Regions from separate parts of the Homo sapiens genome. Here regions 1 and 2 are each linked to region 3. The links come from fine-mapping of genetic effects on plasma protein levels. Region 3 holds a variant in brackets. A gene starts in each other region. All regions are shown on their forward strands.

Region 1 (10,074 bases), not on the chromosome of region 3:
GAAGAGGAATCTTGAGATATGATATAGTTCAGTAGTGCCTGTTATTCCATATTTTAGATTATCATTCAGTTTTCTTCAACTTCTTATTGACAGTTTGTCTTTGTGAACAATTTGAAGAAGAATGCTAAGTCAGGATTTATTATATAGAGTCTATAATTCACGTTAGGGCATTTCCAATTTAGTAGCAGTTTATTGAGCAGCACTAAGGAACTATGAATACATCTGTACTTATGGTGCCAGGATTTTTAGGACGTATTCTTCTTAGGTACTTAAGTGAAACTATGGTTTCAGTGTTATGTGATAATCTCAGACTTGCTCAATTTCATTACCAGTGTCTGGTTAATAAAATTTGCAGACAAGGCAAGAAGAAGCAACTAAAATTGCCTCATTCACCCCTTCTCCAAAAAAAACCCTAACAGTTTTTTTTGTGTGTGTACTACTTATAATCCACAGAATGTGCTGACCATATCATAAAGATTTATAATTGTTGGCTATGAAAATCTTTTCAGAAATAGATACAAAGAGGTATATTAATTCCATGTGGGCATATTAGGTCCTGTACTCAGTAGCCAAAAATAATTAAGTATAATCTTTCCTTTTCTAATAGCATTATCCAAAACTACTCCATTTGTTTGAAAGCTCTTCTTGGCTAATTAGAGGAAACAGTCCTGAAATTTTAAGTCACTGTGAGTGTTTGGCATCTTAAGTTCCATGTATTTAAAATCGAATCTGCAGTTTTTTCTGCTAAACTACATCTTCCCCCTCATATCCCTATTTCTGTTAGTGACAGAACTATTCTTTCAGACCTCAGAAGTTCAGCCTTTTTTCCTTGTCTCTTCTCTGCTTTAAATTCAGACTCAAATCCTTAACATGTTCTTTGTTTCTTTTTTGCATCTTCAACTTTCTTTTTCTGAGATGGAGTCTCGCTCTATGTAGCCCAGGCTGGAGTGCAATGACGCGATCTCGGCTCACTGCAACCTCCACCTCCCGGGTTCAAGCGATTCTCCTGCCTCAGCCTCCTGAGTAGCTGGGATTACAGGCATGCACCACCATGCCCAGCTAATTTTTTGTATCTTTGGTAGAGACGGGGTTTCACCATGTTGGCCAGGCTGGTCTTGAACTGCTGACCTCGTGATCCACCCGCCTCGGCCTCCCAAAGTGCTGGGATTACAGGCGTGAGCCACCGTGTCTGGCCTCAGCTTCAACTTTCACATCCAATCTATCACTGTCTTGATTATTTTTGTACAGTGTACTTGTCATTATATTTCTACTCTTACCAATACCACCTTAGTGTAGCCCTTCTTCTTTTTATGATAGTAAAATACAAATAACATAAAATTTACCATTTTAACCATTTAAAAGAGTACAATTCAGTGGAGTTAAGTACTTTCACAGTGCTGTGAAGCCATCACCATAATTTAGTTCCAGAACATTTTCATCACCCAGAAACTCCATACTCATTAAGTAGTTACTCCTCATTAACACCTCCCCCAAACCCCAGTCAGCTAATTTGCTTTTTGTTTTTATGGTTTTGCCTACTCTAGATATTTCCTATAAAATGGAATCATACAATATGTGGTCCCTTGTGTCTGGCTTTTTTTACTTAGCATATTTTCAAGGTTCATCCATGTTGTAGCATGTATCAGTACTTCATTCCTTTTTATGGCCGAATAATCTATTGTGTGTGTATACCACATTTTATCCATTCACTTGTTGATGGATATTTGGGTTGTTTCTGCTTTCTGGCTGTTGTGTATAATGCTGCTATGAACATTTGTGTACCAGTTTTTGTTTAAAGAGCTGTTTCAGTTCTTTTGGGTATATACCTAGGAATGGAATTGCTGGATTATATAGTAATATATAATTACTATAATTATGTTTAACTTATTGCAGAGCCAGCCCCATTACTTTTCACACCAGTGTTTCCCAAAGTGTGGGACACTACCATGTACATTGATAATAACGTTTAGTATCAGTGAATTATTCTCTTCTTAACTTCAATCCCTCTGATTAATTAAATCAGGGGGAATATTAGTATTTTTTCATTGTATTTTGTTTTATCATTACATTTTATTTCCATGGCATGTATTACCGATTTTACATGTACAGTAGTGAAAGTTTACTTTTCATGTAAATGTACGTAAAATAAAGTGGTATACAGAGTTTCTAAAAATATAATGAAGATCAAACAGAGAAATGTTAAAAAAAAATTGTAAAGATGATATGAGAATGCCTTGAAGTTTTGGAAATACAGACCTGAGATATTGCAGCTATTGCAGCAAATCCCAACTGATTTTCCTCCTCCACTCTTTCCCACTTTCAATCAACCATTCATGCAATTCCCAGAATATTTTCCAATGACTTTGATAGGGTCACTCTCTTCTTCACAAACATTTATTGAATCCCCATTTTGTACAGAGTAAAATTCAAGGTTATTTACAGTTTCATGTCCTTCATCCTTCCAACCAAACGAATCTAATTATGATTCCTAAAAATCACTTTATACTTCCTACTACTGTACATTCCCTTGTGTCATTCCTCTGCTGTAAATTCCTTTTCCCTTAGTTTATATTGCCATTCAATAGGGTCTGATATGCACCAGAAACTGTACTGTTGGCCTGGGCTACAGCAGCTTTCTTTTACACTTATGAGAGAGCAGATATTAGGCACAGGAATAATTCATTAATTACAATTGCAGTAAGTAGTATGATGGAAAAATAGAGAGTGTTATGGAAATAAATAAATAGGACACCTAATCTAGTTAAAGCTGAAGTGGTGGTTTCAAAGGCTTCTTGGAGAAAAAGTCATTTAAGCTGAGACCTAAGCAATTAGTAGGCATTAGCTTAGTGAAGAAATGGGCAGAGAGAATAGTATGTGCAAAGGTACCAAGGTGGGGAGGATCTTGGCTCAAATATGTTAATTATTAATATTTCATATATTTATTTTGCTATGAAGAACTTTAGGTGTATGTTTTCTTCTCAGTAATAATGTACTGGCCTATAATATTTAATATACTTCTTACAAATACCAATTTATCATGCAGCCTTAACTCTGTGAATTTTTTTTTTTTTTGAGGCAGGCTTTTGCCCAGGCTGGAGTGCAGTGGTGTGATCACAGCTGACTGCAGCCTCAACCTCCCAGACCCAAGTGATCCATCCACCTCAGCTTCCCAAGTAGCTGAGGTTACAGGCATGTGCCACCATACCCAGCTAATTTTCCTATTTTTTATAGAGATGAATTTTCGCTATGTTGCCCAAGCTAGTCTTGAACTCCTGGGCTTAAGCCATTCACCTATGTTGGTCTCCCAAAGTGCTCAGATTATAGGTGTGAGCCACCATGCCCAGCTGACTATGTGAATTTTTATTTTTAAAGAGACTTAAAAAAAAAATCACTGTAAGTAGTCAAAGATTAGATTCAAGTCTTTTTTTTTTTTTTTTTTTTGAGGTGCAGTTTCACTCTTGTTGCCCAAGCTGGAATGCAATGGCATGATCTCAGCTCACTGCAACCTCTGCCTCCCGGGTTCAAGCGATTCTCCTGCCTCAGCTTCCTGAGTAGCTGGGATTACAGGCACGTGCCAGCAGCCTCGGCTAATTTTTTGCATTTTAAGTAGAAATGGGGTTTCACCATGTTAGCCATGCTGGTCTTGAACTCCTGACCTCAGGTGATCCGCCCGCTTCGGCCTCCCAAAGTGCTGGGATTACAGATGTGAGCCATCGCACCCAGCCAGATTCAGGTCTTAAAACTATCCAGGGAATTTATATGGAAGTCCCATCTCTATATAGATATTTATATAGATTTATATAACAATTTATTATAAATCTATATTGTATCTATAACCTATATAATAATGCAATATAGATATATCTGATTATAATCCTATAATAAATATTTTTATTTTTCAAATGTATGGGTGCCTATATAGAGAGTACTGCTATCAGTCAAGGCTTTTGGTTACATGCAGAGAAACCAACTCTGGCTATCTTAAGGAGAAAAAGAATTTAGTTGGAGGTTGAAGAATCCACAGGACAATGGAGAATAAGTCTTGGAAAATGGACAAAGACCTAAGGGAACTAGGTGATAGGAAGGACTAGCCAGAGTCATGCTACAGGAACACACATTGGGAAGACACTACTGTAAGACTTTCATTGTTTCTCCTGCTGCTGCCAGGCTTGAAATAATTTTCTTACTAATAGTATCTTTGTGATGCCAGCTGGAGTTCAAAGTCTAGGGTAGAAACAGCATGGCTGAGTCCTTGTTGTGGCTACAGGAGAGGATCTCCTGTCTTTGGCTTCTCTCTTTTGGCCTCCCACCAACACTCACATAAGGGATTTTCTCCAAGTAAGAAGGGGGTTTGGACTATCAAGACCCCCCAAGGCCGACAAAAGAAACAACTGTCTTTCCCACCTACCCATTAAAATATATTTCTAAACAGTTTTTCATGATGACGGATAGGTGTATGTTTCTGAAATATAAGGCAAAATTGTTAAAGGCATCTCAAATGTCCTGGAAAGTATATAGATCTTTTTTTAAAAAAGAAAGGTTGTGGTAGTTTATTAGAGAAAAAAATGACTTTGATTCTTTAAACTAGTCTTGAGTATACCTAAATTTTACAGTATATAGGCATGAACAAAGAAATTGATTAGATTATGTATTTTTCTAAGAGACAGAATTACAAAAAGTAAAAGTGATTGCTAGGTATACATTTGCTTATTTTTCAACATTTTTCTTTGGTAGACAAAAACATTTTGTATTTCAGATGTGTCCAAGATATTGCTATCATTTATACAAACGGATCAAAACAAAAAGTACAGTAAACACACATATCCTAATTGCTTCAAAACATCTCAATGAATAAAAGTTGAAAAACATCAAATTAAGACTGGTGCTACTAATTTGGTTATGAAATATGTGCACTTTTGCCAGTATCCCATAGCGTATAATTTTTTTCATAGTACATTTTATGAATTACATTTAATGAATTGGTTATAAAACAAACCAAATGATGCATAAGAATGTCTCCCTACATATTGATGTGCTACATGATGTTTGGGGAAAGAAGTGTGTATTTGCATGAAAAAATGTTTGAGGAATGTTTTACGACACATAGATGCTTTTGACTTATAAGGGCTTGACTCCAGTAATAATGTCAATGTCTCCACCGTAACCACAGATAGTAATATAGCATAAAGATCAATACAGACAGATGACTTCTAGAGACAGAAATGTTCTCATAGTCACAACAGAATAGTTGTAAGCATCAAATCTAGAAGGTTCTCTAGCCTAGAAATGCATGAATGTATAATGCAACAAGTAAGAACGTGAAAGCACTTTGTAAACTCCGATGGTAACCAGCCTTTCTTAAGGTAGCTTTTCCTAGAAATCCATTTAATTGTTGGACTCCTTTGGGCAGTGGAATTCTGATTGTCATTCATTCAGGAAGACTGTATTTCTGTTTTTGGTCCTTTCACCCACCTTTCATCCTTCACATAACTGTACAAAAGTTGAAAGTCACAAAACCATAGAAAAGTCTCAGTTTCCTACTGTAGAATTCTTGTCATTTCAGTAGTCACAGTTAAACTTGTTCTAGGTTTTTCAGATGCTCTTTTCCAGGACTTCATATGTTTTGATATTTTTAAAAATTCTTTCTTTCAACTTTCTGGAATAAGAAAACAAGAGTTTTATTTACTTGGGCTGTTCTTGTTTCCCCCAGGACATCTAAAAACATGTAGTAAGAAGGGGAAGCTGTTACAACCAAGGACCCCTTAACAGAATATTTCACACAGGATCATAGCAGAATCTTTCTGTAGTTGTCCACATTATTTTCTTTTTCAAAAGATCTGTCTTGGATAAAACAGATTATAACATGGGAGTAATTTGGTAACTTACTTTGATTATAAGCCTTGCTTGCTTCGATTTGGGATTTAGGCATCGTTGTCCTTTATTTTCTTTCAGGGTAATACTGTTAAAAGAACATACAAGAGTCTTAAAGTTTAGATGCAAATACATAAACAAAAAAGCCTGCACCATTGTCATCTTCAGCAAGTTCATTACTTACATCACTTCTATTTTGTCACAGTTGTTACTTGGGTACATTATGGAGGCTTTCTCAATATCTGCCACTTTCACTGCTTTTACCCCAGGGCCTATGCAAAGACAGCGTCCTCTTTTGAACATGGGGAAGCCTAGAATAGATCATAGCATTAGTTAGTAATGCATCTGATTGCAACAGATGGCTGTGGTTTATAGCTGGTGGTGAACGTGAGCAGAATTTTCATTAAGGGTAAAGATAGTAATTTGTCAAATAGCACTTAACACAACTGTTACTGGGAAAAGTTAAGTAAGATGTTGATTATTTTCTCATTAAATTAGTAAGCAAATCGCTAACAAATGGGAAGCATGAAGGAAGTTTATTGGAGGTGAAGCTTGTTTTGCCCCCTTGATTTTATCCTCAAATATTTTCCCAGGAAGCTTGTTAACATGATCGCTATATAAAATCTTCTTAACAGACATTTAAAACTGTTGCTAAAGGCTTTTGCCAGATATTCTAGCCAAATCAAAAATTCCATGAAGTTCATAATTTCTAGTTTCAATAATCATCTCTAGTATCTTAAACATGTCCACCATTTCTGTGCTAAAGCTGTAGTAACTTCTAATCTGTGAGATTAAATAAAACTTTATCATGTCTTTTAGGATAAAAGTGGAAGAAAAGACATTTGAAACATTAGAAAAGGAACTTATAGGTTGAGAAATAAAAATTACTGCATACCTTGAACAACTGTAGCACACAATATCACAGCCAAGGCTATAGCCATGCCCTTCACACTCATGTTTGTTTTTTGCTGTTGCTGCTGGTGCTGCTGCTGCTACTTCAGCTTTGCTGCTCTTCTTGGAAGGAGTAGAAATGCTGAACATGAAAGGAAATTGATAATTGGCATATATAGAGCATTTTATACACCAGCAATCCTTTTATGGCACAGGAATTTCCCTCTTTGAGTCATGCACCTTTCCTGCTTCCAAGAGTTTCTGTTTTGTTCTCTTCTAAATGTTACTGTCCCTTCCTATTTGCAGTAGTGTTGAAAGTGATAAGAATGTGAAAGCACTGTGAAAACCCAGATGGTAACCAGCCTTCTTAAGGTAGCTTTTCCTAGAAATCCATTTAATTGTCGGACTACTTTGGGCAGCGGAATTCTGATTGTCATTCATTCAGGAAGACTGTGTTTCTGTTTTTGGTCCTTTCACCCACCCTTCATCCTTCACATATCTATACAAAATAATATTCTGAAAAGCTTTTTTTTATTATCTCACTTTTGCTTTTCAGTCCAAACTCTTATAATAGATAAGGCCTATATTATTTGACACCAGATGACCTTTATTCAATTTCATATTTTTACCTGTAAATGAGTGCCTAAAGAAGTTTCCCTGTGTTTCTGTATTTATGTCCATATTGTTTTGCATTTTCAACAATTTTTACTTTATATATTTTATTTTGTTTTGCTTTATTTTATTTTTAAATTTAATTTAATTTTATTACTTTATTTTATATTTATTTTATTCTGCAAAGCTTTCATTATAGGCAGATGGCAGGGGGCTCAGTCCTTCTTGGCAGCTGCTTTCCTCATGGCAGCCAGGACGTTGCTCAGCTCCTCCTGCCTTCTCTTGGTGCAGATGTTTGTCCCTACCCTTTTCTTGATGAATTTGAGGGCCTGTTTGACCTTGGAGACCTTCAGTAACTCCATGCCACGCCACTCGTTAGGGGTGAAGCCACACACCTCTGGGATCATGTCCCACACAAATTTAGTGAGTTTGGTCAGGCGCCCACAGTGGCTGTGCCTGGGCTTGCTCACATTCTTGGTCACCTTGTGGCCCTTGTTGAGGCCCACAGCTATAGGGTAGTGCAGTGTCATGGCTGCTGCCCTCCAATGGTGGCCATGGTGGAAAGCTACTTTATATATATTTTAGCACTGTTACTTAGTACATGAAGTTGTATGAGTTGTATTAGGGATCATAAAAAAAAGTGATCCTCTTTGCTCATGTGATAGTTTTACCTCTGAGATTCTACTTTGATGTAATTCCTATTTTTTTGTCTTTATCTTTTCCTCTTAAGCTTCCTAAATCTTTGTTTTAAGTGTGTCACTTGTAGATGTTTAAGAAAATCATATCAAAGGAGCTTTCTAATGGGTAAGCTTAATAAAATATATTTACTGTATAACTGGTAATCTGTAATTTTTAAAATGCTTCCTTGCTGATTCTTTATGTTTTCTTTGATTTCTTTCTAACTTTAAATATATTTTATTTAACTTTTTGAAGCCATTTTTGTTTTTTTTAATGAGATGGGTCTCACTCTGTCACCATTCTGGAGTCGAGTGGCACAATCATAGCTCACTGCAGCCATGAACTCCAGGCCTCAAGCAATCCTCCTGCCTTGGTCTCCCAAAGTGCTAGGATTACTGGGATGAGCCACGGTGCTTGGCCTTCCTTAAGTAATTTGAAAGGAATACATTGTTTTACATTTTGATATTAATTCTTAAAATTCTTTAAAAAGATTTTTACCTGAATTTTTCTAATTATTTACATCAACCATCAATAATATTTTTTTAGCTCCTGTCTTTGTAACATGAGAAAATCACTGTAACTTTCTTTCAAGAATTTTCTCCTATTTCCTAGTTTTACCAATAAAAGTTGGTATAATCGGGGAATTTATAGCCAGTTTATTACTTTTAGATTATTATTTTATCTTATTCAACTTCTTTTTTTGAGAATTATCATTTGCATTTTATCTTGAAATTATATATTTATTTAGATATAATCCTGCATTTAAATTCTTTAACAACCATGACTAGTCTTTAAAACCTTTGAAAGTCTTTACAGTAGTCCCCCATTAAATGAGAAATTCTAGAAATAATTCATAAGTTTTAAATTGTGCACTTTTCTGAGTAGCATGATGAAATCTCACATCATCTTGCTCCATCACTTCATCCCATCACATAGACATTTTATCATTTCACAGCATCACTAGAAGAGTGAGTATAGTACAATAAGATATTTGAAGAGAGAGAGACTACACAGTCACTTAACTTTTATTACAGAATATTGTTGTAATTATTCTATATATTAATGTTGATGCTCTTACTGTGGCTAATTTATAAATCAAACTTTTTTATAGGTATATATGTACAGGAAAAAATACAATATATACAGGGCTCAGTACTATCTGCAGTTTCAGGCACTCATTGGGGGTCTTGGAACATATCCCCCAAGGATAAGGTGAGGGGGCTACTGTATTTTAATTAATTTCCAAGTAGCTGGAATATTCTTTCCTTCTTTTCCATTAATTCATTTAACATATGTAAAGAAAGACTAATTTTCCCTCAGGAATATGGGTAAAGTAAAAGGAATGTGTTCTTGGAGCTCATAAATCCTTATCTGTTATTATTTTTTAATGTTGCTTTTCATTTTCTCAGCATTAGAAACACAGTAGAGCATAGTTGTTAATAGGGAAGGCTCTAGAGTCAGCCTGTGTTCAAATCCACCCTTGATTATTTATTTATTTATTTATTTATTTATTTATTTATTTATCTTTGAGATGGATTCTTGCTCTGTAGCCCAGGCTGGAGTGCAGTGGTGTGATCTCGACTCACCACAGCCTCTGCCTCCTGGATTCAAGTGATTCGCCTGCCTCAGCCTCCCAAGTAGCTGGGATTACAGGTGCGTGCCTCCATGCCTGGCTAATTTTTATAGTTTTAGTAGAGATGGTGTTTAGCCATGTTGGCCAAGCTGGTCTTGAACTCCTAACCTCAGGTGATCCTGCCGCCTTGGCCTCCCAAAGTGCTGGGATTACAGGCGTGAGCCACTGTGCCCAGCCCACATTCAGTTATTTATGAACAAGTTACCTCAACTTTTTGAGGCTATTTTCTCATCTATAGACTGGGGATAATAATAGTACTTTTTTTTTTTTTTGAGATGGAGTCTCTCTGTGCCACCCAGGCTGGAGTGCAGTGGCATGATCTCGGCTTACTGCAACCTCCGCCTCCTGGGTTCAAGCGATTTTCTTGCCTCAGCCTCCCAAGTAGCTGG
Region 2 (10,283 bases), not on the chromosome of region 3:
GTACATCAAAAAGCTTATCCACCATGATCAAGTGGGCTTCATCCCTGGGATGCAAGGCTGGTTCAACATACACAAATCAATAAACGTAATCTAGCATATAAACAGAACCAATGACAAAAACCACATGATTATCTCAATAGATGCAGAAAAGGCCTTTGACAAAATTCAACAACTCTTCATGCTAAAAACTCTCAATAAATTAGGTATTGATGGGACGTATCTCCAAATAATCAGAGCTATTTATGACAAACCCACAGCCAATATCATACGGAATGGGCAAAAACTGGAAGCATTCCCTTTGAAAACTGGCACAAGACAGGGATGCCCTCTCTCACCTTCCTATTCATCATAGTGTTGGAAGTTCTGGCCAGGGCAATTAGGCAGGAGAAAGAAAGGATATTCAATTAGGAAAAGAGGAAGTCAAAATGTCCCTGTCTGCAGACGACATGATTGTATATTTAGAAAACCCCATTGTCTCAGCCCCAAATCTCCTTAAGCTGATAAGCAACTTCAGCAGTCTCAGGATACAAAATCAATGTGCAAAAATCACAAGCATTCCTATACACCAATAACAGACAAACAGAGAGCCAAATCATGAGTGAACTCCCATTCACAATTGCCTCAAAGAGAACAAAATACCTTGAAATCCAACTTACAAGGGATGTGAAGGACCTCTTCAAAGAGAACTACAAACCACTGCTCAATGAAATAAAAGAGGATACAAAGAAATGGAAGAACATTCCATGCTCATGGATATGAAGAATCAATATCATGAAAATGGCCATACTGCCCAAGGTAATTTATAGATTCAGTGCCATCCCCATGAAGCTACCAGTGACTTTCTTCACAGAATTGGAAAAATCTACTTTAAACTTCATATGGAACCAAAAAGGAGCCCACGTTGCCAAGACAATCCTAAGCAAAACAGAACAAAGCTGGAGGCATCACACTACCTGACTTCAAACTATACTACAAGGCTACAGTAGCCAAAACAGCATGGTACTAGTACCAAAACAGAGATATAGGCCAATGGAACAGAACAGAGTCCTCGGAAATAATACCACACATCTACAACCATCTGATCTTTGACAAACCTGACAAAAATAAGAAATGGGGAAAGGATTCCCTATTTAATAAATGGTGCTGGGAAAACTGGCTAGCCATATGTAGAAAGCTGAAACTGGATCCCTTCCTTACACCTTATACAAAAATTAATTCAAGATGGATTAAAGACTTAAGTGTTAGACCAAAAACCATGAAAACCCTAGAAGAAAGCCTATGCAATACCATACATGCCATAGGCATGGGCAAGGACTTCATGACTAAAACACCAAAAGCAATGGCAACAATAGCCAAAATTGACAAATGGGATCTAATTAAACCAAAGAACTTGTGCACAGCAAAAGAAAATACCATCAGAGTGAACAGGCAACCTACAGAATGGGAGAAAAATTTTTACAATCTATCCATCTGACAAAGGGCTAATATCCAGAATCTACAAAGAACTTAAACAAATTTACAAGAAAAAATCAACCCCATCAAAAAGTGGGTGAAGGATATGAACAGACATTTCTGAAAAGAAGACATTTATGCAGCCAACAGACCATGAAAAAATGCTCATCATCACTGGCCATCAGAGAAATGCAAATCAAAACCACAATGAGATACCATCTCACACCAGTTAGAATGGCAATCATTCAAAAGTCAGGAAACAACAGGTGCTGGAGAGGATGTGGAGAAATAGGAACACTTTTACACTGTTAGTGGGACTCTAAACTAGTTCAACAATTGTGGAAGACAGTGTGGTGATTTCTCAAGGATCTAGAACTAGAAATACTATTTGACCAGCCATCCCATTACTGGGCATTTACCCAAAGGATTATAAATCATGCTGCTATAAAGACACATGCACATGTATGTTTATTGCAGCACTATTCACAATAGCAAAGACTTGGAACCAACCCACATGTCCATCAATGATAGACTGGATTAAGAAAATGTGGCACATATACACCATGGAATACTAGGCAGCCATAAAAAAGGATGAGTTCATGTCCTTTGTAGGGACATGGATGATGCTGGAAACCATCATTCTGAGCAAACTATTGCAAGGACAGAAAACCAAACACCGCATGTTCTCATTCATAGGTGGGAATTGAACAGTGAGAACACTTGGACCCAGGGTGGGGAACATCACACACCAGGGCCTGTCGTAAGGTGGGGGGAGCGGGGAGGGATAGCGTTAGGAGATATACTTATTGTAAATGATGAGTTAATGGGTGCAGCACACCTACATGGCACATGTATACATATGTAACAAACCTGCACATTGTGCACATGTACCCTAGACCTTTAAGTATAATAAAAAAAAATTGGTGTGGATGTATGTGTGGGTTCACATTGCTAAATGCATAGAGGAAATTCTGGAAGGATATGCAGAACCCTCTGGAGAGGGGAGAGGGATTAAAGGAATGATGAAGAGGGACTTTCCTTTTTTTAATTCTTTAAATTTTTATATTTGAAAATACACTAAGTATTTGTAACTTTCATAATATTAGGATAAATTCTTTAATTTTTGTGACATTTTTGGTAATTTTATTTTTTTGGTAATTTTTTACTTTTTTTTTTTTTTGAAATGAGAGTCTCACTCTTTCACCCAGGCTGAAGTGCAGTGGTGCGATCATGGCTCACTGCAGCCTCGAACTCCTGGGCTCAAGCAATCTTTCTGCCTCATTCTCCCAATTGCTGGGATTACAGGCAGCGAGGCCAAGGCAGGAGACTTGCTTGAGGCCAGGAGTTCAAGACCAGTCTGGGCAACATAGTGAGACTCTATCTCTACAAGAAAAATTTTTTTAATTAGCCAGGTGTGCCTGGGCATGGTGGCTCACACCTGTAATCTCAGCACTTTGTGAGGCCGAGGTGGGTGTATCACCTGAGGTCAGGAGTTTGAGACCAGCCTGGCCAACATGGTGAAACCCCGTCTCTACTAAAAATACAAAAATTAGCTGGGTGTGGTGGTGCACGCTTCTAATCCCAGCTACTCAGGAGGCTGAGGCAGGAGAATTGCTTGAACCCAGGAGGCGGAGGTTGCAGTGAGCCGAGATTGCACCATTGCACTCCAGCCTGGGCGACAAGAGCAACAAACTCCATCTCCAAAAACAAACAAACAAAAAATTAGCTAGGTGTGGTGGCATGCACCTGTAGTCCCACCTATGTCAGACCTCTTAGGGACCACAATTGGAGTCCCAATTGTGCAGAACAACATTGAGTCACAAATGTATATTCGTGGTAACCTTCCCTAGCCAGAGTCTTATGATTAAAACAAAAGGTAAACGTTTTAGGATGCAAGCAGCAAATCTCTAGCAAGTATTGGTGTGATTCAGTAGCCATTGTACTCTGAGAAAGAAGGTTGTCAGTGGGAAGGCAATTTGGGACTCACTGCAGCAAAACCTCCTAACTTGAATCTGCTGGGCACAAGTGAGCCTTAATCTTAATGTACAATAAAACAGCCAGGCCCACAAAGTCCTAGATTGTGGGTTTAAATAATCAGGCTCAGGGCCACCGAAACAGGATGATAGACATGTTTATGGATTCAGTATTGAGTTCTGGGAGCCAGCAGCCACGTCAGCAGAGGTGGAGTGTGCCCTACCTTTGGGCAGAATCCAAGGCTTTTAATTATAGATAAAGTCACCTGCTTCCTGATTTATGCAAAACACTTAGGGAATGCCAGTTATTGAGCCATCACAACAAGATAGCCATTTAAGACACCATTAAGATAAGGGAACAGCTTTCTGCCTCAAGGAAACAAAATATATTTCCCAAAGTTCCAAACTGGCACAGGCCTTTTTCCTATTCCCCTTGCCAAGGCCACCTGTCCTCTTCTCTGCACTGTTGAGTTGTTGAGTGTTCTCTACCTTCCTCCCTCCCCACTTGGTTTTCCACCCCCTCCCTGGAGCCAGAATCACTTAAGTGCCTCCCACAGGGCACCTGGCTTACATGGACACTTGAGTGGAAGTTTGTTAAGAATAGCTGTGGCGTTGCCCCTCTATTCCACGACTGTTCTCAGGCCTACTTGTGTATTTTTACCCAGTATCACTTATTTTTAAATGACAGAAGTTTGGAGCTTCTCAGGCAATGTGATTTTCCTGTGGCCTAAACTGCCTTAGGTAAAGCATCGAGACTAACCCAAAAGGCTATTGCTGGGTCTCTCGGCTCCCTTCCTTATTATCACCAGCAGCCGTACCTTTTCACACACCTCTGCATTTTGCCGTTCCACCCCACCGTCTCTACCAGGACTCAGTCCCATGTGAAGGTGGGTCCTGGGTATGGCAGAGCCTTCCTCATTACCCTCTGCCTCCTCGACCTGCTGTTCCCTCCCTCCTTTCCTGTAGGAGAGCTGCCGCTGTGGGGACAGGTGGGAGTAGGTCAGGAAGCTGGATGGAGGTACACATTTCAAAGTTTTATGTAAAAAATTTGAGTTGGTGGAATTACCAGAACTAGGAGTGAAGCCTTAGCAGGTAGGCCTTTCAGAAATAGTGAAAATGAGTCCCCAAATCTCAATGGTGAATTTTTCTGAGAAATGTTACAGAAACATAAAGTGACAAATTTTTGTCTTTATATTGATAAGATAGATAGATTAGTAGAAATTGAGAAGAGATTGTCCAGGTTTTTTCTGTTGCTTATTTGTATAAGCCCAGTACATTGACGGACTATATTGGGAGTCCCTAAGCAAATGCCTGCAGGGACCAGGCAGTTAATACAGCAAACTTCAGAGGCTCATCTGCTTTAGCCAGTTCTTGCCATGGTATGGTGGAATCATTGTTGCCACATCTGATTTCTCAAGAGAAGCTTTAAAATCCAATTTGTATGTGTGTATGTATGAGTATGTACATGAGAAAGCTTTCAGTTTTAAAATGTTGGCTCAGATTTTTAAAAAGCAGACCAAAGACTTATATTCCACCTCTGCTCTAGACTTAGAGAATCTGTTCAGGATAAAGCTTAAAGAAAAGATGACAATGGAAAAGAGTCATTGGTCAAGTATTAAGTACTGACACTTAGGGTTTCCTGAATATAGTAGTGAGTGCTACTTTAGAAGAGATTCCCTCTAGTTCAAATGCAGTTACAATCTCCAAATACATGCTAGCAACTCACGATTTAAATTCTCTTTGACATAATTTGTATGGTTCAATCTCCCTCATCCTGCTTTTCTTCTTTTTCTTTCTTTCCTTTCCTTTCTTCCTTTCCTTCTCTTTCCCCTCCCCTCCCCTCTTTTTGTTTTTAACAGATGGGGTTTTACTATGTTGCCCAAGCTGGAGTGCAGTGGCAATTCAGAGTGCAGTGGCAATTCACAGTGTGATCATAGCTCACTGCAATCTTGAATTCCTGGCCTGAAGCTATCCTCCAGCCGTAGCCTCCCAAGTAGGTGGGAATACAGGCATGCACCACTGTGCTCAGCTCTGCCCTCCCTTTTTAAAGGTCAGACTGAAGTTTCAGTTTTCTGTATCCATAGAGCTGACTTTGCTCAGGAAATTTACAACTTACCTAATTTGAACGCAGCTGGCCAAGTCTGTATTTCCCTCCAGGAATGTGCACAGTTGTGTTCAGACCGTTTAGCAGGTTGGGGTGTGGAGGAAGACAGATGAATAGTAGGGGCTTTACTCCAGCCTCTAGCTGGGGATTTTCTAAGATACTGTCTTCAGAAAAGGAAACATAGCTCGAAGTTGTACCTACATGGAAGGACCTCATCCTCCAGGTGGCAAAAATTTGTAGTATGCCTGTTAGAATGAGGTTCCTTCCTGAAACTTCTGGGAGATCTAGAATTTAAAGCTATGTCATTCTCTTGTAGGTAATCAGAAATCAATTGGAAATTCCTGCTTGAAGAGATAGATATTCTTGCCCCACCTCAATCCTTCCAGCACAGATTTGGGAGATACCCCCCTTTCCAGTGAAGGCCTAAGTGTCCAGTGCCCCCACTCACCTTCTGAGGCATGTAGGGCCGCACAGACAGCCAAGGCCACGATGGCGAGTCCTCTCTGCTGCATTCCTGCCTGCCCTACTGGCACTGACAGCAACACAAGTGAGGCTGTTCGATCAGGAAATGAGGCTAAAGGTGTCCTTGGGCACAGAGAAAGTGCAGAGGAAAAGTAAGCCAGGTGGCCCCGCCCTGGGAGGTGTTCAGGGTATCTATTTCTCATGTTTCTTTCCTTAAGACCAGGCTCCTCCTCGACTTATTAAGCTCCTAACTTGTGTTCATCCTGCCTGGGGGTCAGGGGATGTCAATGGAGATCTGGCAGCTGGCAGGGTCACTGTGAGGTGGGGTGTGCATCAGAATCATTTGGGGAACATTAAAAAAAATCAATCTAAATGACTCTCCCCTTTCCCTGATTTGTAAACCAGAACTCCCAGGTAGGAGACCAGTCATTTGAATTTTGTAAAAGCTCTATAGGTGATTCTGATGGACACTTATGTTGAGACCCATTGCATAATCAGTTTTTAAGTAGCTTATGGAAACCATGAGTTTCTGGGGACAAGGGTGACAAGTCATAAAAAATGTATCTTTGTGGAAAGATATGGAAGTATTAAACCCCACTTTAGTCTTGGTTCACAGCCAAATTGTTTCCAGTGAAGCTTTTTACAATAGCTTATTTAGGAGAAAGACAGGAAGGGGGGCAATGCCTTGTAGAAAAGAGCCCAAGAGCAGGTGTGAAGAGGCATGAGCGCTAGTGCAGCTTTGCTGCCAATCAGCTTTGTGAATAAAAGCATGGGGTAGCATGAAGATAATTGGATTCTAATTGTTCCTCATCTACTAATAAGTTGTATAACCTCAGGCAACGTACTTAACTTTGCTGTAAATAACAAGTCAGACTAGATGACCTCCAAAGTCATGCCATGCTTCCTCTAGAACTGTGTTGTCCTATGTGGTAGCCGCTAGCCCACATGTGGCTCTTGAGCACTTGAAATATGAGTAGTCCAAACTCAGATGTACTATGGGTATAAAATTCACACTGGATTTCAAAGACTGGGTACAGAAAAAAATATAAAATATCTTGTTAATAATGTTTATACTGTTTATTGATTACATGATAGTATTTTGGACTTTTTGGGTTAAATAAAATATATTATTAAAATTAATTTCACCCATTTCTTTTTATGTTTTCAAATTACTGCTGTGGTTTGAATATTTTTTTCTTCTCCAAAGCTCATGTTGAAAATTAATCCCTAATAGTGCTGGGAGATAGGGCCTAATGGACAATGTTTAGGTTATGATGGCTCCACCCTCATGAATGGATGAATGCTACTATAAAAAGGGCTTGTGGGAATGGGTTGGTACCTTCTGCTCTTCTGCCAGGTGAGTACACAATGCTCCTTCTCTCCAAAAGATGCAGCAAAGTGGCATCATCTTGGAAATAGAAACTGAAATCACTGGAGCCTTGATCTTGGACTTCCCAGCCTCCATAATTGTAAGAGAATACATTTCTGTTATTTATAAATTGCTCAGTCTCGGGTTGTGGTGTTATGATATATATATTGGCTTTTATCCATGGTTCCTGGCTTATAACTCCCATAACCCTTGTTACAGTTTTTTTTTGTTGTTTGTTTGTTTGTTTTTTTTTTGAGACAGAGTCTCGCTTTGTTGCCCAGGCTGGAGTGAGTTTCACCATCTTGGCAAGATGCTGGTCTTGAACTCCTGACCTTGTGATCCACCCGCCTTGGCCTCCCAAAGTGCTGGGATTACAGACATGAGCCACTGTGCCCAGCCCAGTCTTTTTTTTATATTATAATGTTGGGGCACTTTAGGCTTCAGGAACAGGCCTCAGGAAACGGAATCTCTCTCTGACCTTCTGTTTTTCTTTCACCTGCCCAAGGCAGGACTCTAATCTGATTGTGGGTCATAAGATCCTCATTCCAGAAAGGGTTCTGTCCCATACTCTAGAGGAAGGAATGCTACACAGGCCAAGAAAAGCCTGAACAGGCAGGACTTGCTGGGTTTAGATTATGTGCTTTTTGTCTAATCACATTTCTACATGGTTGTTAATCATGCCTATGTAATGAAGCCTTTGTAAAACCCCAAAAGGGCAGAGTTTGGAGAGCTTCTGGATAGCTGAACATGTGGAGGTTCTTAGAGGGTGGCGTGCCCAGGGAAGGCATGGAAGCTCTGCATCCCTTCCCCCATACCTTGGCCTCAAGCGATCCTCCTGCCTTGGCCTCCCAAAGTGCTGGGATTACGGGCATGAGCCACTATGTCTGGCCTTCATCTGTATCTTCTGTACTGTCTCTTATAATAAACCGTTAAATGTAAGTATTTCCCTGAGTTCTGTGAGCCACTCCAGTGTTGCAGGAAGTCAGGAACCCCGAATGGAGGGACCAACCGGCTGAAGCCATGGCAGAAGAACATAAATTGTGAAGATTTCATGGACATTTATTAGTTCCCCAAATTAATACTTTTATAATTTCTTACGCCTGTCTTTACTGCAATCTCTGAACATAAATTGTGAAGATTTCATGGACCCTTATCACTTCCCCAATCAATATCCTTGTGATTTCCTATGCCTGTCTTTAATCTCTTAATCCCATCATCTTCATAAGCTGAGGAGGATATATGTCACCTCAGGACCCTGTGATGATTGCGTTAACTGCACAAATTGTTTGTAGAGTATGTGTGTTTGAACGATATGAAATCTGGGCACCTGGAAAAAAGAACAGGATAACAGCAATGTTCAGGGAACAAGAGAGATAACCTTAAACTCTGACTGCCGGTGAGCCGGGCGGAACAGAGCCATATTTCTCTTCTTTCAAAAGCAAATGGGAGAAATATCGCTGAATTATTTTTCTCAGCAAGGAACATCCCTGAGAAAGAGAATGTGTCAGTGAGGGTAGGCCTCTGAAATGGCCACTTCAGGGGGTGGCCATCTTTTATGGTCGAAGCTGTAGGGATGAAATAAGCCCCAGTCTCCCATAGTGCTCCCAGGCTTATTAGGATGAGGAAATTCCTGCCTAATAAATTTTGGTCAGACTGGTTGTCTGCTCTCAAACCCTGTCTCCTGATAAGATGCTATCAATGACAATGCATGCCCAAAACTTCATTAGCAATTTTAATTTTGCCCCGGTCCTGTGATCCTGTGATCTTGCCCTGCCTCCATTTGTCTTGTGATATTCTATTACCTTATGAAGCACGTGATCTCTGTGACCAACACCCTATTCATACACTCCCTCCCCTTTTGAAAATCACCAATAAAAACTTGCTGGTTTTACGGCTCAGGGGGCATCACAGAACCTGCCAACATGTGATGTCTCCCCTGGACACCCAGCTTCAAAATTTCTCTCTTTTGTACTCTGTCCCTTTATTTCTCAGACTGGCCAACACTTAGGGAATATAGAAAAGAACCTACGTGAAATATTGGGGGTGAATTTCGCCCGATATCTGGCTGAATTTCCCCCATACTCCAGCCAATTAATCAAACCCATAGAGAGGTTGTGGGAACCCCAACTTGGAGCCAGCTGTTCAGAAGTTCTGGAGGTCTGGACTTGTGACTGGTGGGAAGTAGGGGGTGATCTCATGGGACTGAGCCCTCAACCTCTGGTTCTGGCACTATCTCTTGGTAGATAGTGTCAGAACTGAATTGGAGGACACCTAGCTGGTGTCCGCTGCTTGGTGTATGCACCAATTTACCCCCTACATATTTGGTTATAGAAGTCTTCTGTGTTGATGATTTTTGTGGTATGAGAGCAGAGGAAAAACAGTTCGAGAGTTTTTTTCCTCAAACAGAGATATTCTGTTATAGCAGCATAAAACAGACTAAAACAATTACATATGTAATTGAAACCCAGAATATTTCAAATCACATGGGTAGATCACATATTTGCATTGGGTGTTGCTGCTTTTGAAGATCAAGAGCAGGTGTCCAAATTTACCCCAGCTATCAAGTTACATTTAACCAAGCTCCAATTCACTATCAAGAACCAGAGTTATAATAAGGAATGGGAGCTTTGGAGAGCAACAGACTTGCAAAGATAGTGACCTCTTGAATGAGAAGACCCACAGCAGCATTCCAGCCTTTCCACTAAGCAAAGGGACCTTACCACAGGTCTTGATAAAGGAGGACAGAGAACCAACCTGTGGAGGTGACAAAGACCTGTGAAATTACACACACCAGCCATAACCACAGGAGCCCCTCTGGACCAAAGCCGTGTGCTCTGAAGATAAGAGTCAGGAGGCTGGGTGTGGTGACTCATATCTGTAATCCCAACACTATGGGAGACCAAGGTGGAAGGATTGCTTGAGC
Region 3 (10,283 bases):
AGTGTGCTGGCTTGTGCCTGTAGTCACAGCTGCTTGGGAGGCTGAGGTGGGAGGATCGCTTGAGCCCAGGAGTTTGAGGCTGCAGTGATCTGTGATCATGCTACTGTACTCCAGCCTGCATGAGAGAGTGAGAACCTGTCTCAACAAACTCCAAAAACAAAACAAAAAAAATTGTCCCATTTAAGAGGTGAATGGTATTTCAGTACAGCTTTACTTTATTTATTTATTATTTATTTTTGAGACAGAGTCTTGCTCTGTCACCCAGGCTGGAGTGCAGTGGCACAATCTTGGCTCACTGCAACCTCCGCCTCCCAGGTTCAAGCGCGCTCCTGAGTAGCTGGGATTACAGACGCGCGCCACCATGCGCAGCTCATTTTTGTATTTTTAGTAGAGACGGGGTTTCACCATGTTGGCTAGGCTGGTCTTGAACTCCTGACCTCGTGATCTGCCTGCCTTGGTCTCCCAAAGTGCTGGGATTACAGGCGTGAGCCACTGCACCAGGCCAGTTACTTTATTTTTTTAAAAATTAAAAATTAATTAATTTTTAAATTAATATATTTAATTCAGTAAGCATTAAGGGTTTAATTAGCTTAATTTTTCCTATTTCTTTTGAGACAGAGTCTTGCCCTGTCACCCAGGCTGGAGTGCAGTGGTGCTATCTCGGCTCAGTGTAATCTTTGCCCACTGCAATCGCTGCCTCCCGGGTTCAACTGATTCTCTTGTGTCAGTCTCCCGAGTAGCTGAGATTACAGGCATGTGCCATCATGTCCAGCAAATTTTTGTATTTTTAGTAGAGACGGGGTTTTGTCATGTTGGCCAGTCTGGTCTTGAACTCCTGACCTCAGGTGATCCACTCACTTTGGCCTCCCAAAGTGCTAGGATTACAGGCATGAGCCACCGCACCTGGCCTACTTTCTATTATGAGGAAATTTGAGCATCTTTTCATGTGTTTTCCAGTTTTCCGGTTTATTAAGTTCCGCTCTTATCTTTATTAACGTCTATGTGCTCTCTCAGGTTTATAGGTTTATTTTATTGTTTGTTTTACAACTTCTGGAATTGGATTTCTAATTAATTTTATTTATTTATTTATTTTTTAGAGAGGGGCTCTTGCTATGTTGCCCAGACTGGAGTTCAGTGGCTATTTACAGGTACAATCCTACTACTGATCTGCAGGGAGTTTTGACCTGCTTTGCTTCTGACCTGGGCAGGTTCACCCGTCCTTAGACAATCTGGTGGTGCCCCGCTCCCAGGAGGTCCCTACATTGATGCCAAACTCAGTGCAGACACTGGATTGGCATAGTGCACTATAGCTCAGAATTCCTGGGCTCAAGTGATCCTCCCACCTCGGTAGCTGGGTCTGTAGGTGCGCCACCACACTTGGCTGTTTATTTATTTTCATTCTTATTTATTGACCTAATTACTTTAATGCTATACATTGTCCTCTAAGCATTGCTTTTGCTGTATCCTGGAGGCCTTATCTGTATTCTTTTCATTATTTCTATTTTCTTTTTTTTTTTTTTTGAGATGGAGTCTTGCTTTGGCAACCAGGCTGGAGTGCAGTGGCGCGATCTTGGCTCACTGTAACCTCCGCCTCCCGGGTTCAAGTGATTCTCCTGCCTCAGCCTTCTGAGTAGCTGGGATTATAGGCGTCTGCCACCACAACTGGCTAATTTTTGTATTTAGCAGAGATGGGGTTTTACCATGTTGGCCAGGCTGGTCTTGAACTCCTGACCTCAGGTAATCTGTCCACCTTAGCCTCCCAAAGTGCTAGGATTACAGGCGTGAGCAACCATGCCCGACTAGTGCCCTGTGTTTTGGACACTTCCTCATTCTTTGTCTTTCATGACCTTGACACGTTTGAAGACCACTGGCCAGTTACTTTGTAGAATGTCCCTCAATTTGGATTTGTCCCAATCACTGGGTTAATAAGTATCACATTATTTATATTAAAAATTTTTACTTTTTTGAGACAGAGTCTTGCTCTGTCGCCCAGGCTGGAGTGCAGTGGTGTGATCTCGGCTCACTTGGCTCACTGCAGCCTCCACCACCCAGGTTCAAGTGATTCTCCTACCTCAGCCTCTCAAGTAGCTGGGACTACAGGCACCCACCACCACGCCCGGCTAATTTTTGTGTTTTTCGTAGAGAGGGGGTTCGCCATGTTTGCCAGGCTGGTCTTGAACTCCTGACCTCAAGTGATCCACCCACCTGGGCCTCCCAAAGTGCTGGGATTACAGGCGTGAACCACTGTGCCTAGCCTTGGTCTTCATTTAATCTGAGATGAACAGTGGATGGAAGCATCTTTTTTTTTTTAGATGGAGTCTCACACTGTCTCCCAGGCTGGAGTGCAGTGGCACGATCTCAGCTCACTGCAACCTCCATCTCCCGGTTCAAGCAATTCTCCTACCTCAGCCTCCCAAGTAGCTGGGATTACAGGCACCCGCCACCACACCCAGCTAATTTTTGTATTTTTAGTAGAGATCGGGTTTTGCCATGTTGGTCAGGCTGATCTTGAACTCCTGACCTCAGGTGATCCTCCCGCCTCAGCCTCCCACCGTGTTGGGATTACAGGTGTGAGCCACGGCACCCAGCCGGAAGCATCTTTTTTCTGTTTGTTTTGTTTGTTTGAGACGGAGTTTTGCTCCTGTTGCCCAGGATGGAGTGCCATGGTGCAATCTCAGCTCACTACAATCTCTGCCTCCCGGGTTCAAGCAATTCTCCTGCCTCAGCCTCCTGAGTAGCTGGGATTACAGGCATGCGCCACCACACCTGGCTAATTTTGTATTTTTTAGTAGAGATGGGGTTTCACTATGTTGGTCAGGCTAGTCTCGAACTCCTGACCTGAAGTGATCCACCTGCCTCGGCTTCCCAAAGTGCTGGGATTACAGGCGTGAGCCACCACGCCTGGCCGGAAGCATCTTAAAATGTAAAACTGCAGATGCAGGTTTAGCAATTTAGACGCTTGCACCCAAGATGCACATATTACTAGAGCAATGCCAAACAAATGTGATTCTGTGGGGTTTCTGTTTGATTTTTAATTTGGAAGGGATTCTGGCTGAGTGAGGTGGCTCACATCTGTAATCCCAGCACTTTGGGAGGCTGAGGTGGGCAGATCACTTGAGGCCAGGATTTTGAGACCAGCCTGGCCAACATGGTGAAACCCTGTCTCTACTGAAATTATAAAAATTAGCTGGGCATTGTGGTGGGCACTGGTAATCCCAGCTATTTGGGAGGCTGACACAGGAAAATTGCTTGAACCTGGGTGGCAGAGGTTGCAGTGAGCCGAGATTGTGCCACTGCACTCCAGCCTGGGCGATAGAGCGAGACTCCGTCTCAAAAGAAAAAGATTCTAAGGCATGGCAAATAAGATTTAAAAATTCTGTTGTACAATACTATGTCACATCTCAATGTGACTTAAATGTAGGAATTATAACCAGGATGTCCTTCAGTCCTTGGATTTCTCCAGCCTTCATTTGTTGATATAGTTTGGATGTTTGTCCTTTCCAGATTGCACGTCGAGATGTAATCCCCAGTGTTGGAGATGAGCCCTGGTTGGAGGTATTTGGCTCATGGGGGTGGATCTCTCATGAATGGTTCAGTGCCAACCCCTTGGTGCTGTTTCTGCAATAGTGAGTGGGATCTGGTTGTTTAAGAGTGTGGCACCTCCCTCCCGCACTCTCTCTTGCTCTCTCTCTTGCCCTGTGACATGCCAGCTCCCCTTCAACTTCCCCTGTAAGTGGAAGCTTCCTGAGGTCCTCACCAGAAGCAAATGCTGGCACCGTGCTTCCTGTACAGCCTGCAGAACCGTGAGCCAAATAAACTTTTTTTCTTTATAAATCACCCAGTCTTAGGCATTTATAGCAATGCAAGAATGGCCTAACACGTTTGTTTTGCAACTGTGAGTGTGAATCAACATATTGGTTCTTTTCAATGCTCAAAACATTGTGCTTTAATTGTGAGACACATAAGGCTGGCATATGGGTTGCCAAAATTATGATTCTTGAAAGTCCTGGCA[G/C]ATATTTCAAAGTAAAATAATGAAAATTTATAGAAAGGAATTGAGGAATAAAAGAATTTAAATAAGAATAAGTTTAATAAATTTAAGTAAGAATTTAAGGCCAGGCGTGGTGACTCATGCCTGTAATCCAGCATTTGGGAGGCCGAGGTGTGTGGATCACCTGAGGTCAGGAGTGTGAGACCAGCCTGGCCAACATGACCAAACCCCGTCTCTACTAAAAATACAAAAATTAGCCGGGCATGATGGCAGGTGCCTGTAATCCCAGCTGCTCAAGAGGCTGAGGCAGGAGAATCACTTGAACCTGGGAGGTGGAGGCTGTAGTGAGCCAAGATCGCACCACTGCACTCCAGCCTGGGTGACAGAGTGAGACTCTGTCTCAAAAAAAAGGCTGGGTGTGGTGGCTCATGCCTGTAATCCCAGTACTTTGAGAGGCCGAGGTGGGTGGATCACCTGAGGTTAGGAGTTCAAGACCAGCCTGGCCAACATGGCAAAACCCTGTCTCTACTAAAAAATACAAAAAATTATCTGGGCCTGGTGGCGGGCGCCTGTAATCCCAGCTATTTGGGAGACTGAGGCAGGAGAATTGCTTGAATCTAGGAGGTAGAGGTTGCAGTGAGCCGAGATCGCACCACTGCCCTCCAGCCTGGGCAACACAGCGAGACTCTGTCTCAAAATAAATAAATAAATAAATAAATAAATAAATAAAAAGGTGTTCGGCTCTATAAAGATCTACTTTTCCCCAAATCTATTTTTTTCTTTTTAAGGGACAGGGTCTTGCTCTGTCACCCAGGCTGTAGTACAGTGGCATAATCATAGCTCACTGCAGCCTCAAACTCCTGGGCTCAAGTGAGCCTCCCACCTCAGCCTCCCCAGTAGCTGGGACTACAGGTGTGTGCCACCCCGCTGGGCTAATTTTTGCATTTTTTGTAGAGAAGGGGTCTTGCTATGTTGCCCAGGCTGGTCTCGAACTCGTGAGCTCAAGCAATCTGCCCGCCTCAGCCTCCCAAAGTGCTGGGATTACAGAAGTGAGCCACTGTGTCTGGTCTACGTTTTTATTTTAAATTGAGCATTAAGGGAATGCAGTCTTTTAATCAGAACTCTGCCAATGCTTTTTATCTAGATGCCTATTGCCACTTTTGTCTTCTATGAAATTTTTGTCTCAAGAAAAGCAGGATTACATTTTTTTTCCTTAACAGATTGAGTTGGTGATGTGTATTCTTGGTTACCAAAATGCTCACATAGCTTTAGGTTTTGAATGGGTAAATATTCATGATGCGTGAAAAAGCATAATACGTATTGTGTGATCTCAGTCCTATGAGATTGGATGTTCTGCCTACACCCAGGACCCTAGAAGGAATGTCAAGCTGTAAAATGCTGGTGATTGTGGATGACTTTGTTTTTTGCTTCCTGTTTTTCAATTTCCTTTTTTTTTTTTTTTTTTTTTTTTTAGGCGGAGTCTCACTCTGTCACCCAGGCTGAAGTGCAATGACGCAGTCTTGGCTCACTGCAACCTCCGCCTCTTGAGCTCAAGCGATTCTCCTGCCTCAGCCTCCTGAATAGCTGGGATTACAGGCACATGCCACCACACCCGGCTAATTTTTGTAATTTTAGTAGAGATGAGGTTTCACCATGTGGGCCAGGCTGGTCTTGAATTCCTGACTTCAGGTGATCCACCCGCCTCGGCCTCCCAAAGTGCTATGATTACAGGCATGAGCCACTGTGCCCGGCCTATTTCTTCTATCTAATTGTATTTTTGTAGCTATCAACCAACCTCTCTTCACTGCCCCCTCCCTACACTCTGATAACTGTCAGTCTACTCTACCTCCACGAGGTTCTTCCTTTTTTTTTTTTTCTGAGACAGAGTCTTGCTCTGTTGCCCAGGCTGGAGAGCAGTGGCATGATGTTGGCTCACTGCAACCTCCGCCTCCTGGGAGTCAAGTGATTCTCCTGCCTCAGCATCCCGAGTAGCTGGGATTACAGGTGTGCAGCACCATGCCCGGCTAATTTTTGTATTTTTAGTAGAGATGGGGTTTCACCATGTTGGCCAGGATGGTCTCAAACTCCTGACCTCAAATGATCTGCCCCCCTCGGTCCCCAAAGTGCTGGGATTACAGGCATGAGTCTCACTGGCGTGAGAATTTAGAAGCACCTCTCCCACCCGCGCCCAGCTGGCCTCTTCTAGAATTTTATATAAATGGAATAGTCATATTGTCTACTATTTGACTTTTTTCACTATCCTAATGTTGTTGCAATTCTTCCAAGTCAGTTCACATATATTTCATTCCTTCTTATTGCCAAAGAGGATTCCATTGTATGGATATACCAAAATTTATCCCTTCACTATCTGATAACCTCCCTTCTTAATTTTTAGCTATTATAATTAGTACACTCAAAACTTGTGTGTGTATACATGTTCATTTCTCTTAAGTAAATACCTAGATCAAGATAATCAGGCTGGGCGAGGCAGCTCATGCCTGTAATCCCAGCCCTCTGGGAAGCTGAGGCTGGAGGATTGCTTGAGCCCAGGAGTGTGAGACCAGTTTGGGCAACATGGTGAAACTCTGTACAGAAAAATAAAAAAAATTAGCCGGGTGTGGTGGTGCATGCTTGTAATCCCAGCTACCCAGGAGGCTGAGACAGGAGGATTGCTTGAACCCGGAAGATTGAGGCTGCAGTGAGATGTGATCACACAACTGCATTCCAACCTGGGTAACAAAATGAGACCCTGTCTCAAAAAAAAAAAAAAAAAAAAAAGAGATGGCGGGGCACGGTGGCTCATGCCTGTAATCCCAGCACTTTGGGAGGCTGAGGCAGGTGGATCACCTGAGGTCAGAAGTTTGAGACCAGCCTGGCCAACATGGTGAACCCTGGTCTCTACTGAAAATACAAAAAATTAGCTGGGTGTGGTGGTGGGTGCCTGTAATCCCAGCTACTTGGGAGGCTGAGGCAGGAGAATTGCTTGAACCCGGGAGGCGGAGGTTGCAGTGAGCTGAGATTGTGCCACTGCACTCCAGCCTGGGCGACAGAGCGAGACTGTTTCCAAAAGGAAAAAAAAAAAGATAATCAGTAGGACCAAGACATGGGAACAAAGACTGTTCGCTGCTCTCAACAGACGCTACTCAGTGCCACCATGAGCTTGTCAGGTAAACGTCCAAAGAGAGAGGGAGGAAAGAAAAAAAATATTTTAGCCACCTAGAATTACAAGTAGTTCTACACATTTTACTTAAAAAAAGAAGGAAAAAAGGTACTGATTATCTCGCGGTGGGGGGCGTCCCCAGAGAGGCTGCTGGTTGGAGACACAGGGCGCCTTTCCTCTTCCCACTTTCCCTCTTGTCAGCCAGAGACAAAGAACTCAGGCTTCAGGTGGCTCAAAACGTAAAGGAAGAAAAAAAAAGAAAAAAAAGAAGCCGGGCACAGTGGCTCACGCCTGTAATCCCAGCATTGGGAGGCTGAGGTGGGCAGATCATGAGGTCAGGAGTTCGAGACCAGCCTGACCAACATGGTGAAACCCCGTCTCTACTAAAAATACAAAAATTAGCTGGGCATGGTGGTGGAAGGTAATCGCCATTGCACACCAGGCTGGGCAGCAAGAGTGAAACTCTGTCTCAAGAAAAAAAAAAAAAAAGAGAGAGAGAGAGAGACTGCTGCTTCAGGAAGTTAGAAGTCCAAGAAAAAAAGGAGAACTTTAAACTTTAAGTATTGAGCAAACACCAGGTCTAGCAAACATAATGTTATCTCTAGATTACTTATTGATTAATGAGCAAACCTGTAGGTACAGGGAGAAAATAAAAGGTGACTAACTAAATTATATATACATATAAAATATACATACATAATATATGTGATATAATACATATATTACTGTATAATATATACATATGTACACATATGTGTGTATATATATTAATATATAATACATTATATATTATTATATGTACCATATAGGTATACTACATGTATATTCTATACACATTATATATGTATATATAATTTATCTAGTCACCTTTTATTTTCTCCTTGTACCTAGAGGTACAATATATATGGTTAAATATATTGTATATATTATATACAATATATTATATATGTAGATATGTATACCTTATATGTACATATGTATATTATATGTAACAATATATATGTAGATATGTATACCTTATATGTACATATGTATATTATATGTAATACATTATATGTATTATACATATATAATATACATATGATACATATATAATATTTTAATATAAATATAAACAGATAAATTTAGTATACAATATATTTTCCATAGTTTGATTCAACTGGAAATTCAAAATTCATATAACAAAAATATAAAAAAGGACACTGGGTTTTGTGCCTCTACAATGTAGGTTCTAACTTTAACCTTTCAAAAAATGCACTAGGCCAGGCGTGGTGGCTCACGCCTGTAATACCAGCACTGTGGGAGGCCAAGGTGGGAGGATTGCTTTAGGCCAGGAGTTTGAGACCAGCCTGGGCAACATAATGAGACCCCTGCCTCTACAAAAAAAATTAAAAAAAAAGTTAGCCAGGCATGGTGGCGAATGGCTGTTGTCCCAGCTACTCTGGAGACTGAGGCAGGAGGATTGCTTGACCCCTGGAGGTTGAGGCTACAGTGAACCATGATAGTGCCACTGCACTTCAGCCTGGGTGACAGAGGGAGACCCTGCCTCCAAAAAAAAAAAAAAAAAAAAGAAGGAGCCCCATCCTACATACCAGATGCCAGACAACATCACCCCAAAATCTCACTGCTGTAGATGCCATCATCTCAGACGACATCACCCCAACCCAGGGCCTTGACACTAGAGATGACTTCACCCCTTACGCTAAACCTTCACTCCTTGGGTGGTAAACCTAGGTCACGCCCATGGATTCACCTCTCCTAAGACACAAATGGACATAGGACATTTTTACTTTTCTTTCTGAACTCCCTGCCTGCATAGGCTATGATCTTAGTACGCTGCTTGCTCTCTGCTCACATCCATCCCTAAAAGAAACTCTGGCCATGTGCAAGCCAATCTGGAAGCCATGCCAGTGTGTGACAGCATCATTACACTCTGCTCTAGGTCCAGAGTTGATCTGTTCCCTTGGCGCCACCCTAGGCGGTGGAGTGGGTGGCTGTGCATGGGATTTCAGGTCAACTGGGTGCCTTCATATGCTTCAACTGTTTACGCTCATCCAAGGCCTTACTCAGCATGGCACGTAGCCCAGACTTCTCTGATAGCCTTTAATATCCACACCATTCGAACGGTACCCGTTGGAATATGCACAAGGTCTCACGCCTAGGTCAGTGGTATTAGGAACAACAGACCAAAGGTTGCTGGCTAGACTTTAGAAGTAGATCACCACATCCACATGGGCCAAGCTGGTAGCCAGAATATGAACTTAAAGGCGCCTCTCTCACCCAGCAGGCTGGGCTCCCTGCATTCCCGCCACTTCCTTTATTTTTATTTATTTATTTATTTATTTATTTATTTATTTATTTATTTTGAGATCGAGTCTCGCTCTGTTGCCCAGGCTGGGGTGCAATGGTGCGATCTCAGCTCACTACAACCTCTGCCTCCCAGGTTCAAGCGATTCTCCTGCCTCAGTCTCCTGAGTAGCTGGGACTATGGGCGCAAGTGACCAGGCCTGGCTAATTTTTATATTTTTAGTAGAGATGGGGTTTCACCAGGCTGGCCAGGTCTCGAACTCTCTACCTCCACGAGGTTCTTTCTTTCTTTCTTTCTTTGAGAGAGTCTTGCCCTGTTGCCCAGGCCTCGAACTCCTGACCTCAAGTCTCAAACTCTTCTCTTCAAGTGATCCACCCGTCTCGGCCTCTTGGCCTCCCAAATTGCTGGGATTATGGGCATGAACCACCGCGCCCAGCCCCCACCACTTTCTTTAAGTGGAGCATTTAGACATCTGCCCTTGAACTTCAAGTGACTGGCACTGTATTCCCCTCTCTATATATGTACTGCTAGTTGCCACATGCTCTCTCCACTCGACTCTACTCCTATTCTCTCTTTCTCTACTTGACCTGGGGATGGAGGACTGTTCTCCTAACTCATGGTGCCCTCCTGACTCATGGTGTTTTCCCAACTCATGGTGCCCTCCTGACTCATGGTGCCCTTCCTGCCTAGGAGGCCCTTATTTATTGTCTGTAAAAAATCTCTGGGGCCAGGCACAGTGGCTCATTTCTTTAATCCCAGCACTTTGGGAGGCCAAGGCAGGAGGATCACTTGAGCCCTGGAGTTCAAGACCAGCCTGGGCAACATGG

Alleles and levels. Positions count from the first base shown, and alleles are read on the strand shown. Strength reflects both the effect of a copy and how common the allele is.
In carriers of allele G in region 3, the plasma level of the protein whose gene starts at base 6,910 in region 1 tends to be lower than with C alone (weak association).
For the plasma level of the protein whose gene starts at base 6,116 in region 2, allele C in region 3 goes with a lower level than allele G (weak association).

Evidence for each region. PIP is the chance, under the fine-mapping model, that this variant and not a neighbour inherited with it causes the effect. Protein levels are from antibody-based Olink assays in UK Biobank. Linkage for the fine-mapping came from a reference panel and not from the study's own genotypes, which makes the PIPs less certain.
Region 1: CXCL11 starts here. The variant in region 3 is fine-mapped to the plasma level of the CXCL11 protein (UK Biobank, PIP 0.97).
Region 2: CCL28 starts here. The variant in region 3 is fine-mapped to the plasma level of the CCL28 protein (UK Biobank, PIP above 0.99).

What each region holds. Positions count from the first base shown.
Region 1 is chr4:76,029,161-76,039,234 of GRCh38, forward strand. CXCL11 (C-X-C motif chemokine ligand 11) reads right to left here and starts at 6,910. Exons shown (of 4, transcript NM_005409.5): 1 at 6,767-6,910; 2 at 6,056-6,182; 3 at 5,887-5,959; 4 at 4,522-5,656. The coding sequence starts at 6,827. The coding sequence ends at 5,633. It also overlaps a transcript of ART3 not described here and the pseudogene RPL36P8.
Region 2 is chr5:43,406,276-43,416,558 of GRCh38, forward strand. It overlaps CCL28 (C-C motif chemokine ligand 28), which reads right to left and starts at 6,116. Exons shown (of 3, transcript NM_148672.3): 1 at 5,978-6,116. The coding sequence starts at 6,041.
Region 3 is chr7:100,905,196-100,915,478 of GRCh38, forward strand. It overlaps the pseudogene RN7SL549P. Among named protein-coding and RNA genes, the nearest start is that of ACHE, 14 kb to the left of the region's middle. The variant G/C (reference allele first, on the strand shown) is at 4,013.